Linked DNA regions of Homo sapiens. The protein of the gene in region 1 interacts with the protein of each later gene in a biochemical or structural test. Each region holds a gene or a part of one and is shown in the gene's direction. Other genes may lie near its edges. The genes, in order: EEF2KMT and EEF2.

The links.
Region 2: of the proteins of EEF2KMT (region 1) and EEF2, one has a biochemical effect on the other in vitro, tested with the Homo sapiens proteins (one study listed by BioGRID).

Annotation. Positions count from the first base shown.
Region 1 is NC_000016.10:5,083,784-5,087,795, reverse strand, and holds the end of EEF2KMT (protein-lysine N-methyltransferase EEF2KMT), read left to right. Parts: intron 1-416; exon of another isoform or gene 417-2,063; coding exon 2,064-2,164; 3' UTR 2,165-2,914; coding exon of another isoform or gene 2,915-3,046; 3' UTR 3,047-3,512; downstream 3,513-4,012. Other genes in the region: ALG1 (chitobiosyldiphosphodolichol beta-mannosyltransferase), read right to left, coding at 2,915-3,046. UniProt on the Homo sapiens protein: Catalyzes the trimethylation of eukaryotic elongation factor 2 (EEF2) on 'Lys-525'.
Region 2 is NC_000019.10:3,982,224-3,990,236, reverse strand, and holds the start of EEF2 (elongation factor 2), read left to right. Parts: upstream 1-4,773; 5' UTR 4,774-4,856; coding exon 4,857-4,859; intron 4,860-5,886; coding exon 5,887-6,101; intron 6,102-6,945; coding exon 6,946-7,127; intron 7,128-7,218; coding exon 7,219-7,430; intron 7,431-7,664; exon of another isoform or gene 7,665-7,730; intron 7,731-7,812; coding exon 7,813-7,991; intron 7,992-8,013. UniProt on the Homo sapiens protein: Catalyzes the GTP-dependent ribosomal translocation step during translation elongation.

The DNA of each region.
Region 1 (4,012 bases):
AGAGTCTGGCTTTGTATTGCCCAGGCTGGAGTGCAGTGGTGCCATCTCGGCCCACTGCAACCTCCCACCTCCCAGGTTCAAGCTATCCTCCCATCTCAGCCTCCTGAGTAGCTGGGACTACAGGCACGTGCTACCACACCTGGCTATTTTTTGTATTGTTTGTAGAGTTGAGGTTTCGCCATGTTGGCCAGGCTGGTCTTGAACTCCTGACCTCAAGTGATCTGCCGCCTCAGCCTCCCAAAGTGTTAGGAATACGGGCGTGAGCTACTGCGCCCAACCCCATTTTTGTTTAAAAACTAATAATAATCACCCACACATGGTTATGAGTACCTATATTCCCAACTCCTCAGGAGGCTGACGCGGGAGGATGGCTTAAGCCCAGGAGTTTGTGGCCACCTTGAGCAACATAGCGAGACTTCATCTCAAAACAAAATTTATCACAATAATCATTTTCACATAAGTATACCTATAGGGGAAAACCTAGAATATACATATAGCAGTCTTGTCCAACTTGCGGCCCAACGCAAATCTGTAAACTTTCTTCAAACAGTACGAGGTTTTTTTGTGATTTTTTTTCTTTTAGCTCATCAGGTATTGCTAGTGTTAGTGTATTTTATGCGTGGCCCAAGGCGATTCTTCTTCTTCCAGTGTGGCACAGGGAGGCCAAAAGATTGGACATCCCTGATATACACATTAACAGGTGCCATCCTTGGATGGCAGGATTATAGAGATTTCTACACATTCATGTCTGTACTACTTCATTCTTATAAATACGCATTTTCCACTCGTAACAAAAAACTGTGATTGAAAATCGTCCCGGGTCACAGTGTCTCACGCCTGTAATCCCAACACTGTAAGAGGCTGAGGCTTTGGGAGGCTGAGGTGAGCAGATCACGGGAGGTCGAGTTCAAGACCAGCCTGGCCCACATGGTGAAACCCCATCTCTACTAAAAACACAAAAATTAGCCAGGCGTGGTGGTGCACGCCTATAGTCAAAGCTACTCGGGAGACTGAGGCAGGAGAATCACTTGAACCTGGGAGGCGTTGCAGTGAGCTGAGATTGTGCCACTGCACTCCAGCCTGGGGAACAGAGTAAAACTTCGTCTAAAAACAAATAATAAAAGAGGCTGAGGCAGGAGCATCACTTGAGGCCATGCGTTCAGGACCCCATCTCTACAAAATAAAAAAATTACTGGCATGGTGGCACGCACCTGTCATCCCAGCTACTCAGGAAGTGGGAGGATTGCTAGAGCCCAGGAGTCGAGGCTGTAGTGAGCAATGACTGTGCCACTGCACTCCAGCCTGGGTGACAGAACAAGATCATATCTCAAAACAAAAAAAAAGAATCATTCTGGCTAACGGCTCTTCAGACATCTGTGCTTATGAGAACAGCAGCCCCTTCTAAGCTGTGTGTGTGTGTGGGTGTGTGTGTGGTGCGTGTGGTTTTTTTTTTTTTTTTTTGAGACTTAGTCTCACCCTGTCACTCAGGCTGGAGTGCAGTGGCACAATCTCAGCTCACTGCAACCTCCACCTCCTGGGTTCAAGCAATTCTCCCACCTCAGCCTCCCAAGTAGCTGGGATTACAGGCACTCGCCATCATGCCTGGCTAATTTCTGTATTTTTGTAGAGATGGGATTTCACCATGTTGGCCAGGCTGGTCTCGAACTCCTGACCTCAAGTGATCCGCCCGCCTTGGCCTCCCAAAGTGTTGGGATTACAGGCATGAGCCACTGTGCCCGGCCGCTTTCTAAGCTTTGTGAAGAGTGGGTTGACTATTCAGATCTCTGCTTCTGTCCCGCTGTGCCAAGTGCTGGGGCAGACACAGGCAGAGAGTGGACAGCGGCACGGTGCCTGCTGCTAGCCATTTCTATGCAAAACCAGCTTTCTGGTCCCATCCTGGAGGCCAATTCTAGGCACCTGGGTGGGCCTGGGAACCTGTGAACCAAGTAAACTGACTTGGACACCCCCCTACCCCGCCAGGCCTGTCCTAGCAGCCCCACACAATACCCTCATGTCCTGTCCCCAAACACCGCCATCCTCAAACACATGTGCTCTGTTTCCAGGCCGGGCCGGGATCAGATGGGAAGTGGAACCTCGTCATGAGCAGAAACTGTTTCCCTACGAAGAGCACTTGGAGATGGCAATGCTGAATCTCACCCTGTAGGACTCACACACGACTCCAACGGGATTGTGAGAATCAAGTCACTCTCATGGGAAGAATTTTTATATGGGAAAGCGGATAAAACTTTCATTGGACTGGAATGTTTGGAGAATGTTAATTTCCAAATCAGGAACCACAAACTGCCCTCTAATAAGACATCGGCTATCTAAGCGTGTGGGTGCCCCCTTTCTGCCAGCAGTTCTGGTTCTTAAGAAAATCACCATAAATCAGACATGAAAATTCTGGCTCCAAAAATAGCATTTTCTTTGTGCAAATAAAAACGTGTGTATCAAGTATGATGTTCCCCCAACGTGGACACACTCAGTTCCTCACAAAGCCAAGCCCACTGCAGCTGCCACATCCCTGGGCTTACGGTGCAGCAGGTGCTTTTTTCAAGACAGGAATCAAAATGTTAGGAACACGGCAGAAAGGGGACACCTGGAGACCAAACGCAGGATGAGGAGTTCTGCAGAGGTCACAGGGAAGTCACAGAACAGTAATACGCTAGCAGGGGCATGGGGCGTGAAGAACAGAAGAAGAGAGGAAGCGTTTCCAAGCCTCCAGAGAAGAAATCAAGGCCAACCAAAGCTTCCCGGGTCACAGAACCAATTCTTTTACCAGGCAGTACCACTGCTGTCATTTCAGCTTCTGGCCACTGGGAGGTGCTGCTCGAAAGGGTTTGCCCTGAGACTCCAAGAAGAAGCTGCGGGAAGGACAGCAGGGGTCCTGGGGTTTTAGCCTCTGGCCCAGGAGTTATGTGTCCATAACCAAAGGGAGCACAGTCTGCACCCAGCTCTCATCCCATCGGAGCTGCTGCGACTCCCGCAGGTTCTTCCGGAACTGGTTTAGCTTGCCCGCAGGATCAGGAAAGTTTGAGAAAAGCATCTGCAAAAAAATAAAGAGCAGAGCTTACCTCATTGCCTGTCCCCACCCCATCCCAGGTCACCACCTGGCTGACCCCAGGTCCCCGACCCAACAACAACCCCTCCCAAGTCCCTAACTCCCTCACTTGGACTCGAGACCCTTCACACCCCAGCAGCACTCCGCCTCCAACTTGACATCACAGTTTCTGGAAACTTCCCCGCATGTCCCACTTTCCCACACTTGGTGCCCTGGAGCACCTCCCGGCCTCTACGTGCTGCCCATTCCCCTGTGAGCACCCTCCTCTCGGCCTCTGGCCAACGCAGTCTCACCCATCTGTGGGTAACAAGGGGGTGTCGGTGTTCTTTGCAGCCTTGCTAAACTGTCTGAATCAAGGATCACAAACTACAGCCTGCAGGCCAAATCCAGCCCACAGCCTGTGTTTGTAAATAAAGTTTTATTGGAACAAAGCCACACCCCTTAATCTACAGATGATCTGTGGCTACTTTCACACCCCAACAGAGTACCATGGTTCTGACAGAGACTGGGGAACCCAGTCTAAACGACTTCCGACCTGGACCTTTACTGAAAATCCTGCCAATCATTCTGTTGGCAAGAATGATGTATTACTTTTTGCAATAAGAAACAAGTAACCTTTGCAGAATTCCACCCATCTTTCAAGGCTGGTCCCAGAAGCTCCCTTTGCCCGCCCACCTACGTGATCCTGATCACTTCCTCAACCGCAGCCCGGCCCACCCAGCTCCAGCATCATTTGTGGAGTGTCAGCTCCATAAATCCAGAGGGCAGGTGGGGGTGTGTCTTAACTTTCCCGAGCCTACTGTACCGAAACGGGACAGCAGAGTGGGCCAGCCTCTGTGACCTCTGCTCCCTCCCTAGCTTTTCCGCCAGACCCCACATGGTCCCACCCTGGCTGTGGGAAGCAGGGATCAGGGAGCCTGGCTCGGTGCCAGTCTCCAGAACCCTCCCCAC
Region 2 (8,013 bases), on another chromosome or scaffold:
TTGAGCTCTCAACACCGCTGCTGAACAGATGCACCCCATCAGCAGGGACTTTCTACCTGGGAGGGTAATTGTTTCAATTATCTTCTTTTTCTTTTTTTTTTTTTTTTGAGATGGAGTCTCGCTCTGTCGTCCAGGTTGGAGTGCAGTGGCGCGATCTAGGCGCATTGCAACCTCTGCCTCCCGGGGACAAGCGATTCTCCTACCTTAGCCTCCCGAGTAGCTGGGACTACAGGCGCGCCACCATGCCCAGCTAATTTGTGTATTTTTAGTAGAGACGGGGCTTCACCATGCTGGCCAGGCTGTTGTCTTAACTCCTGACATTGTGATCCGCCCTCCTCGGTCTCCCAAAGTGCTGAGATTACAGGCATGAGCCACTGCGCCCGGCCTTTTTTCTTTCTTTTCAGGGTGTGGAGTCTCCCACTATCACCCAGGCTGGAGTGCAGTGTCGTGATCTCTGCCCACTGGAACCTCGGCCTCCTGAGTTCAAGCAATTCTCCTGCCTCAGCCTCTTGAGTAGCTGGGGCCACAGGCGCCTGCCACCATGCCCGGCTAATTTTTGTATTTTTAGTAGAGATGGGGTTTCGTCATGTTGGCCAGGCTGGTCTCCAACTCCTGACCTCAAGTGATTCACGCACCTCCGCCTCCCAAAGTGCTGGGACTACAGGCGTGAGCCATTGCGCCTGTTCTTACTACACAGACTCACCAGGCCTCCCTGAACCCATTTGTTTAATCATCTAAAAGACAAAATCCACTTTTTTTTTTTTTTTTTTTGAGACAGAGTCTTGGTCTGTTGCCCAGGCTAGAGTGCAATGGTGCCATCTCAGCTCACTGCAACCTCCACCTCCCGGGTTCCAGCAATTCTCCTGCCTCAGTCTCTCGAGTAGCTGGAACTACAGGTGTCTGCCACCATGCCCAGCTAATTTTTGTATTTTTAGTAGAGATGGGGTTTCATCATATTGGCCAGGCTGGTCTCGAACTCCTGACCTCATGATCTGCCCGCCTTGGCCTCCCATAGTGCTGGGATTACAGGCGTGAGCCACCACGTTTTTTGTTTTTTTTTTTTTTTTTTGAGATGGAGTCTCGCTCTGTCGCCCAGGCTGGAGTGCAGTGGCGCGATCTCGGCTCACTGCAAGCTCCGCCTCCCAGGTTCACGCCATTCTCCTGCCTCAGCCTCCCGAGTAGCTGGGACTACAGGCGCCTGCCACCATGCCCGGTTAATTTTTTGTATTTTTAGTAGAGACGGGGTTTCACCATGTTAGCCAGGATGGTCTTGATCTCCTGACCCCATGATCTGCCCGCCTCGGCCTCCCAAAGTGCTGGGATTACAGGCGTGACCCACCGCGCCCGGCCTTTTTTTTTTTTTTTTTTTTTGAGACGGAGTCTCTCTCTGTCACCCAGGCTGGAGTGCAGTGGCACAATCTCAGCTCGCTGCAACCTCCACCTCCTAGGTTCAAGCGATTCTCGTGCCTCAGCCTCCCGAGTAGCTGGGATTACAGGCACGTGCCACCACACCCAGCTAATTTTTTTGTATTTTTAGTAGAGACAAGGTTTCGCCATGTTGGCCAGGATGGTCTCAATCTCCTGAGCTCATGATCCGCCTGCCTCTGCCTCCCAAAGTGCTGGGATTACAGGCATAAACCACCGTGCCCGGCCCGTTTTCCCAAATCTGAAATGCATCTAGACAACGGTTGCAGGACCGGGCTCCTTCCCGATTAAACCACTACTTGAGTCGGATTTGGCTGCACCTTTACTAGCTCTGTGAACGTGGGCAAATGACTTAACTTATCTGAGTCTCCATTTTCTCAGGCGTAAAGGAGGCCACCCGAAGCCCAGGGTGTGGGTAGGTTAGCTGAAGTATTTGATTTAAAGGACCGTGAGGTCAGGTCCTAGTAAACGCTCAATAAACTGTTAAAAGACAGTGTTGGCCGGGCGCGGTGGCTCACGCCTGTAATCCCAGCGCTTTAGGAGGCCAAGGCGGGCAGATCACGAGGTCAGGGGTTCAAGACCAGCCCGGCCAACATGGTGAAACCCCTGTCTCTACTAAAAACACAAAAAAATTACCCGGGTGTGGTGGCAGGCGCCTGTAATCCCAGCTAATCGGGAGGCTGAGGCAGGTGAATCGCTTGAATCGGGTGGCGGAGGCTGCAGTGAGCTGAGACCGCACCACTGCACTCCAGCGTGGCAACAGAGCGAGACTTGGTCTTAAAAAAAAAAAAAAAAAAAAAAAAAAAGGCAGTGTCGAGAGGCCTGCACTGGCGACTGTCGGTCAGCAGGGGCCGCTACTGCGGTCTCTGAGCTCTCCTGGCGCCGCAGCAGGCGCATGCGCAGCGGAGCTTCTCTGCAGAGGTGAATTTTTTTATTGGTCCCCACCCTAAAAGACCCAGCGTATATTTATTATTGTACTTATTACAGCTGACCTGGTTGTGGCTGCTTGTGGTACTCCAGGATTCTGCTCTTCATGGATGTGGGGATGACAGTGGGAGAGATCCTTCCCTGCCAACACCTGGCTCCATCCCTGCAGTTATGGGGTTGAAAATTCCCCTTTTTCCCTTAAGCTCTCCCCCTAGTTCTTTAAATTACATGATGTTAGAATTTTTCAATAAGCAACCCATGCACTTGAGAAGAAATTCAACCCCTCTTTTATTAAGTTCCGGGATACCTGTGAACAGCCCCCCCTCCTTTTTTTTTTTTTTTTTTTTTGAGACAGAGTCTTACTCTCAGTCGCACAGGCTGGAGTGCATGCAGTGCCGTGATCTCGGCTCACTGCAACCTCTGCCTCTCGGGTTCAAGCGGTTCTCCTGCCTCAGCCTCCAAAGTAGCTGGGATTTCAGGCGTTCACTACCACGCCGGGCTAATTTTTTTATTTTTAGTAAAGACGGGGTTTCTCCATATTGGGTAGGCTGGTCTCGAACTCCTGACTTCAGGTGATTTGCCTGCCTCGGCCTCCCAAAGTGCTGGGATTACAGGCGTGATCCACCGCAAGCAGCCTAACCCCTCTTTAATTTTTAAAATTTTTAAAAATTTTTTTGAGACGGAATCTCGCTCTGTCGCCAGGCTGGAGAGCAGTGGCGCGATCTCGGCTAACTGCAACCTCCGCCTCTCGCCTGACACCTCTTTTAATGAAAACCTTTCCATTACATCTCTGAAATGCTCCCACTTTGCACGGAAAAAACGGCTGCGAAGCCCCCAATAGGAAACGCAACACGTAGCAGGTGCTCAGTGCATTTAAAAATTTTGAAGAATTTTATTATTAATAATGCGAAACTGACTACCCCTCTGCTAAAAACTCATGCCCCAAATGGCGCATGCGCTTGACTTGCAACTTAACTAAACGCGTCACAGGTACAGGTGTAGGTGGTTAGGGACCCCGGGCGCTCCCATCTGCTCCCTGCCGCGCCCTCTGCCTTTCAGAGCCTCAATCCTTTCGGAAGATACTTTTCAGTTTTCCACTGGGTTAAATGGTGATAGGAAGAGCAATCATCCGTTAAATGAAACCCAAGGTTGAGACAGCGCTTTGTAAAGCAAAGTGCCCGAAGCATTCGTGAGGGGGAGGAGTGTACAGGTTTATTTTAGAGTCCAGGCTGGAATTTGCATTGCTTTTTGTGGATCCACACCTCCCCCTCTCCCAGCCCAGGAAAAGCACTGCAGTGGCTCTCCTGTTTCACAAAGTGAGTTTAAGGAAAGATGTACCGCAGGGGGTTCATTTGCACTGTGAGAACATCATTCATGCAAGAAATGCTGAGTACCTACTATGTGCTAAACAGCGGGTTGGGCTTTTCATAAGGGATAGAGTTACACAATTGAATGCCAATTCATGAGATATGAAATACATTCAACTGTTTCTTAGGGTCAGATTAGGACACAAATGCTAAACAGTCTTCCTGCGCCTCCCCCTGGAGAGGAAATGAAATAGAAAATGAAATTGTGCCAGTAAACCGCTTAGCCGGGTGCCTGGGACATGGCAAACCAGTCCTGAAATAAATAACTGTTTTATTAATAGCAATCTTAGCTAATTAAAATAGATAGCGTTTATTGAGCGTTGGGTATCAGGCACGGTCCTAATTCTTTTAGATGTCTTTAGTTCGTTTCACTCTCCCCCAAACAATAGGGTGGTATTGATCACCTCCGAGCAGGTGAAATTGAGGCACAGAGAAATCCTAGTAGCTGGTAGAAGAACACGCAGTGTGGTCAAGCTAGCAAGGTGTTTGGTCCACTGCTATATCTACAAAACCCCTAACAATGCCTGGTGTATAGATGCTCAGTATGCATTTGTGGGATCAGTGATTCCGATGCCTGCTTCTTATAAAGTTTTTATTTAGAAATAATTACAGGTAAGGAGTTGCAAAAACAGTATAGTGGTCGCGAGTGTCCTTTTTCCCTCGGCTTCTCCCAGGGGTATCGTCTTACGTAACAATGTCCAAACAGGGAAATTGACTTGGGTATAATCCACAGACTCTATTCACCTTGTAAATTGGTTTTAATAGAAGTACTGGACAACTTGTAAGCTAATATCGTTGCTATGGTTCTCGTTCTCAGCTAAAACGGCGCTCTTTACTTTGTGCACCTGAACACTGCACACCGAGGGCGACCACCGCCCCCGAGATGCCCAGCTTCTATTCTAGAGCGCCGCGCCGGCGCCGAATGGGTTAACGGGCGGGGGGACACGCCTCCGTGCGCTTGCGCGGCGTCCCTTCGCCCCGCCTTCGCAGCGCAGTCACATGACCCGCCCAACCGGCGTCCGCCTATAAAAAGCTGAGTGTTGACGTCAGCGTTCTCTTCCGCCGTCGTCGCCGCCATCCTCGGCGCGACTCGCTTCTTTCGGTTCTACCTGGGAGAATCCACCGCCATCCGCCACCATGGTGAGTAACCCTGCCTCGCTGGTGCCCCGGAGCGGCGGCGGGGCCTCCGCGGGGCCTACGCTGCCTAGCCTGGGACGCTGGGGCCCCCCGTGCCAGGAGGAGACGTAGCGGCGGCGGGGCCGGAGGACCCGGGGCTGGGGAAGCGGCCGCCGCCATGTCTGTGCGCCGCGCTGTTCACCGAGCCCTTTCTCCGTTTCCGAGGGCGCCATAACCTTGCCCAGACCTGGTTGGAGCTGGGTTGTTAGCGGGGATGGGGGTGGGGAATGATGATGTGGCAGGCGTAGTAATGGCGGGCACCGCGGTGGAAGCGGGGAGACAGGGAGGCGCCTTATGTAACCCGCGGGCCGCGAGTTTGAGATCGATTTTCTGCCGGGGGACTAGGGGCGGCAGGGAATGGCAGAACGAGCAAAGCGACACCTGAAAGGCTCCCCTTTTCCTTCCAAATACCTTCTCCTGATGCTGTTAATCGTCGACCTTAGGCACTTGTCCTTCCTATGACTCCCAGATGTACAAAGACTCTTATTGAGACACGAGGTGTAGGCTTGTGGCAGTTAGGGCCGTTCCGGCTCCCCGTTATTTCCTGGGGTGGGTGGCCTTGTCTGATCCCGTTTGCCAAGGGGTGACCTTGCATTTTATGATGAAGCTTCTTGCTCGGGGAAGTTTGGGTGGCCCGGTGACAACGTGGAGGGGGCTTTAGGAGAGGATTCATCCCTTACGTGTTTGGCCCCAAATGAGACTTTAGTATTTGTACCTGGTATCAAGGAAATCTGTTGACACTCAGTTTTATTCCTGAGCACTTTTATTTCTGGGTTGTCAATCATGAATGACACCTATTAACGGTGGTTCCTTGGAGATTGCGGGGTGGCTCTTAAGGGGTGTTAGGCTGGCAAGATTCGGTGGGCTTGGGGCACCCCAGCACCAACCCCCTCCTGGCCTTGGGCATGCTGGTTCGTTTGGACTGAACGCTCCGTGCCATGCTGTGTTCCTGGAAATCACGAGCTGGTCTGAGCCTCCTTGTCTTGCCCAGGTGAACTTCACGGTAGACCAGATCCGCGCCATCATGGACAAGAAGGCCAACATCCGCAACATGTCTGTCATCGCCCACGTGGACCATGGCAAGTCCACGCTGACAGACTCCCTGGTGTGCAAGGCGGGCATCATCGCCTCGGCCCGGGCCGGGGAGACACGCTTCACTGATACCCGGAAGGACGAGCAGGAGCGTTGCATCACCATCAAGTCAACGTGAGCTCCCTGTGCCCTCTGTACCCAGGCAGGGAGGTGCTGGCCTGGCAGCTGGAGGCCACTGGGCCAGGGTGCGCGGGGAGAGACTTGGCAACGTCTCTTTCCCCTGGTTTCTTAATTCATGGGAGAATGAGTGAGGTTCAGTCCAGCGAGACAGGATGGAGAGGCACAGGGATTCGGGGTACTGCGAGCTGGAAGGTTTTCTTGAGGAGGGGGCTTAACTCCGTGGTTCTCCCTCCCTGGGGGACTTGCCCCCACTCCTACAATATCTGGAGAGGTTTGGCTGTCACACCTGGGAGGGGAGGGTGTTCTAGTGCTTGGGACGCTGGGAAGCTCCTGTGTTGCACTGGATGATGTTCATTCCATGTCAGTTTCTGGCCCCGATATGAGTAGGGGGAGCGCAGAGTACGGTGACCCCAACTGCTTTTTGTCCTGGGTTGGTACATTGGTGAGGGACTCTGGCTAAGGCTCTTCATTTCCCCTGGAGCAGGGGCAGAAGTGAGGAGGGGAGGGTCGGAGTCTCTGGAGGCTTTTGCCGTCCTGCTGGGTCTTTTAGTTGCTACTTTGAGTCAGGTGTGATGAATCTTGGGACCAAGTCGGTGGGGCAGGATGTCTGGTCAGGAGGGCTCTGAGGATCTGGCTATGGGGCTGGTACCAGGAGTTCCCTGTCATGGGGGTGGCATGTCTCGGACAGAGGCAAAGGACAAGGGTGGGTTGGCTCTTGTGGGAGCCTCTCCAGGGATGAGTCATGGAGGGAGGAGCAGCCTGGCTTCTGACAGCATCCCAGACTCCCTGGGCCAGGTGTGTGGCTCCTGTCCCCCTGACGAGTCCCTCCCTCCATCAGTGCCATCTCCCTCTTCTACGAGCTCTCGGAGAATGACTTGAACTTCATCAAGCAGAGCAAGGACGGTGCCGGCTTCCTCATCAACCTCATTGACTCCCCCGGGCATGTCGACTTCTCCTCGGAGGTGACTGCTGCCCTCCGAGTCACCGATGGCGCATTGGTGGTGGTGGACTGCGTGTCAGGTAAGCAGTGGGTCCCCCTGAGGCACGGCCTGGAACCGGGGGCCATCCTTGCTTGAGGATGACAGCGCCGCCCTGTCCCCCGTGTCCCCAGGCGTGTGCGTGCAGACGGAGACAGTGCTGCGGCAGGCCATTGCCGAGCGCATCAAGCCTGTGCTGATGATGAACAAGATGGACCGCGCCCTGCTGGAGCTGCAGCTGGAGCCCGAGGAGCTCTACCAGACTTTCCAGCGCATCGTGGAGAACGTGAACGTCATCATCTCCACCTACGGCGAGGGCGAGAGCGGCCCCATGGGCAACATCATGGTACGGCCCTCCCTAGCTGGGTGGTGGGCTTGCCGCAGCGGGATCTGCAGGAGCCGGTGGGGAGTGGAGTTGAGCTGAGGGGGACTGGAAGTGTGTTTTTGCCAGGAATGTTGGGTGACAGAGAAGGGGGCTGGAATGTTTTCATCCGACTTGACCCAGCCCTTGATCTTTGGGCAGCTGGAAGAGACGAGCTCAGGGAACGCTGCCCTGGGTGGTGGAGGGGCTGGCCCCCCTATTCGTGATGACTGATCATTTCTTCACTTTGACCAGATGTCTACTGAAGAAAGCCTGCGTCTGAGGCCCATGCCCAAGGCGCCCAGCCCGTAGCTTCAGGCTCTGCGCAGGGGCCCTCACGGCTGCTTCTCGTTTCTCACACTTCCAGATCGATCCTGTCCTCGGTACCGTGGGCTTTGGGTCTGGCCTCCACGGGTGGGCCTTCACCCTGAAGCAGTTTGCCGAGATGTATGTGGCCAAGTTCGCCGCCAAGGGGGAGGGCCAGTTGGGGCCTGCCGAGCGGGCCAAGAAAGTAGAGGACATGATGAAGAAGCTGTGGGGTGACAGGTGAGCCCCGCGGGATATGGTG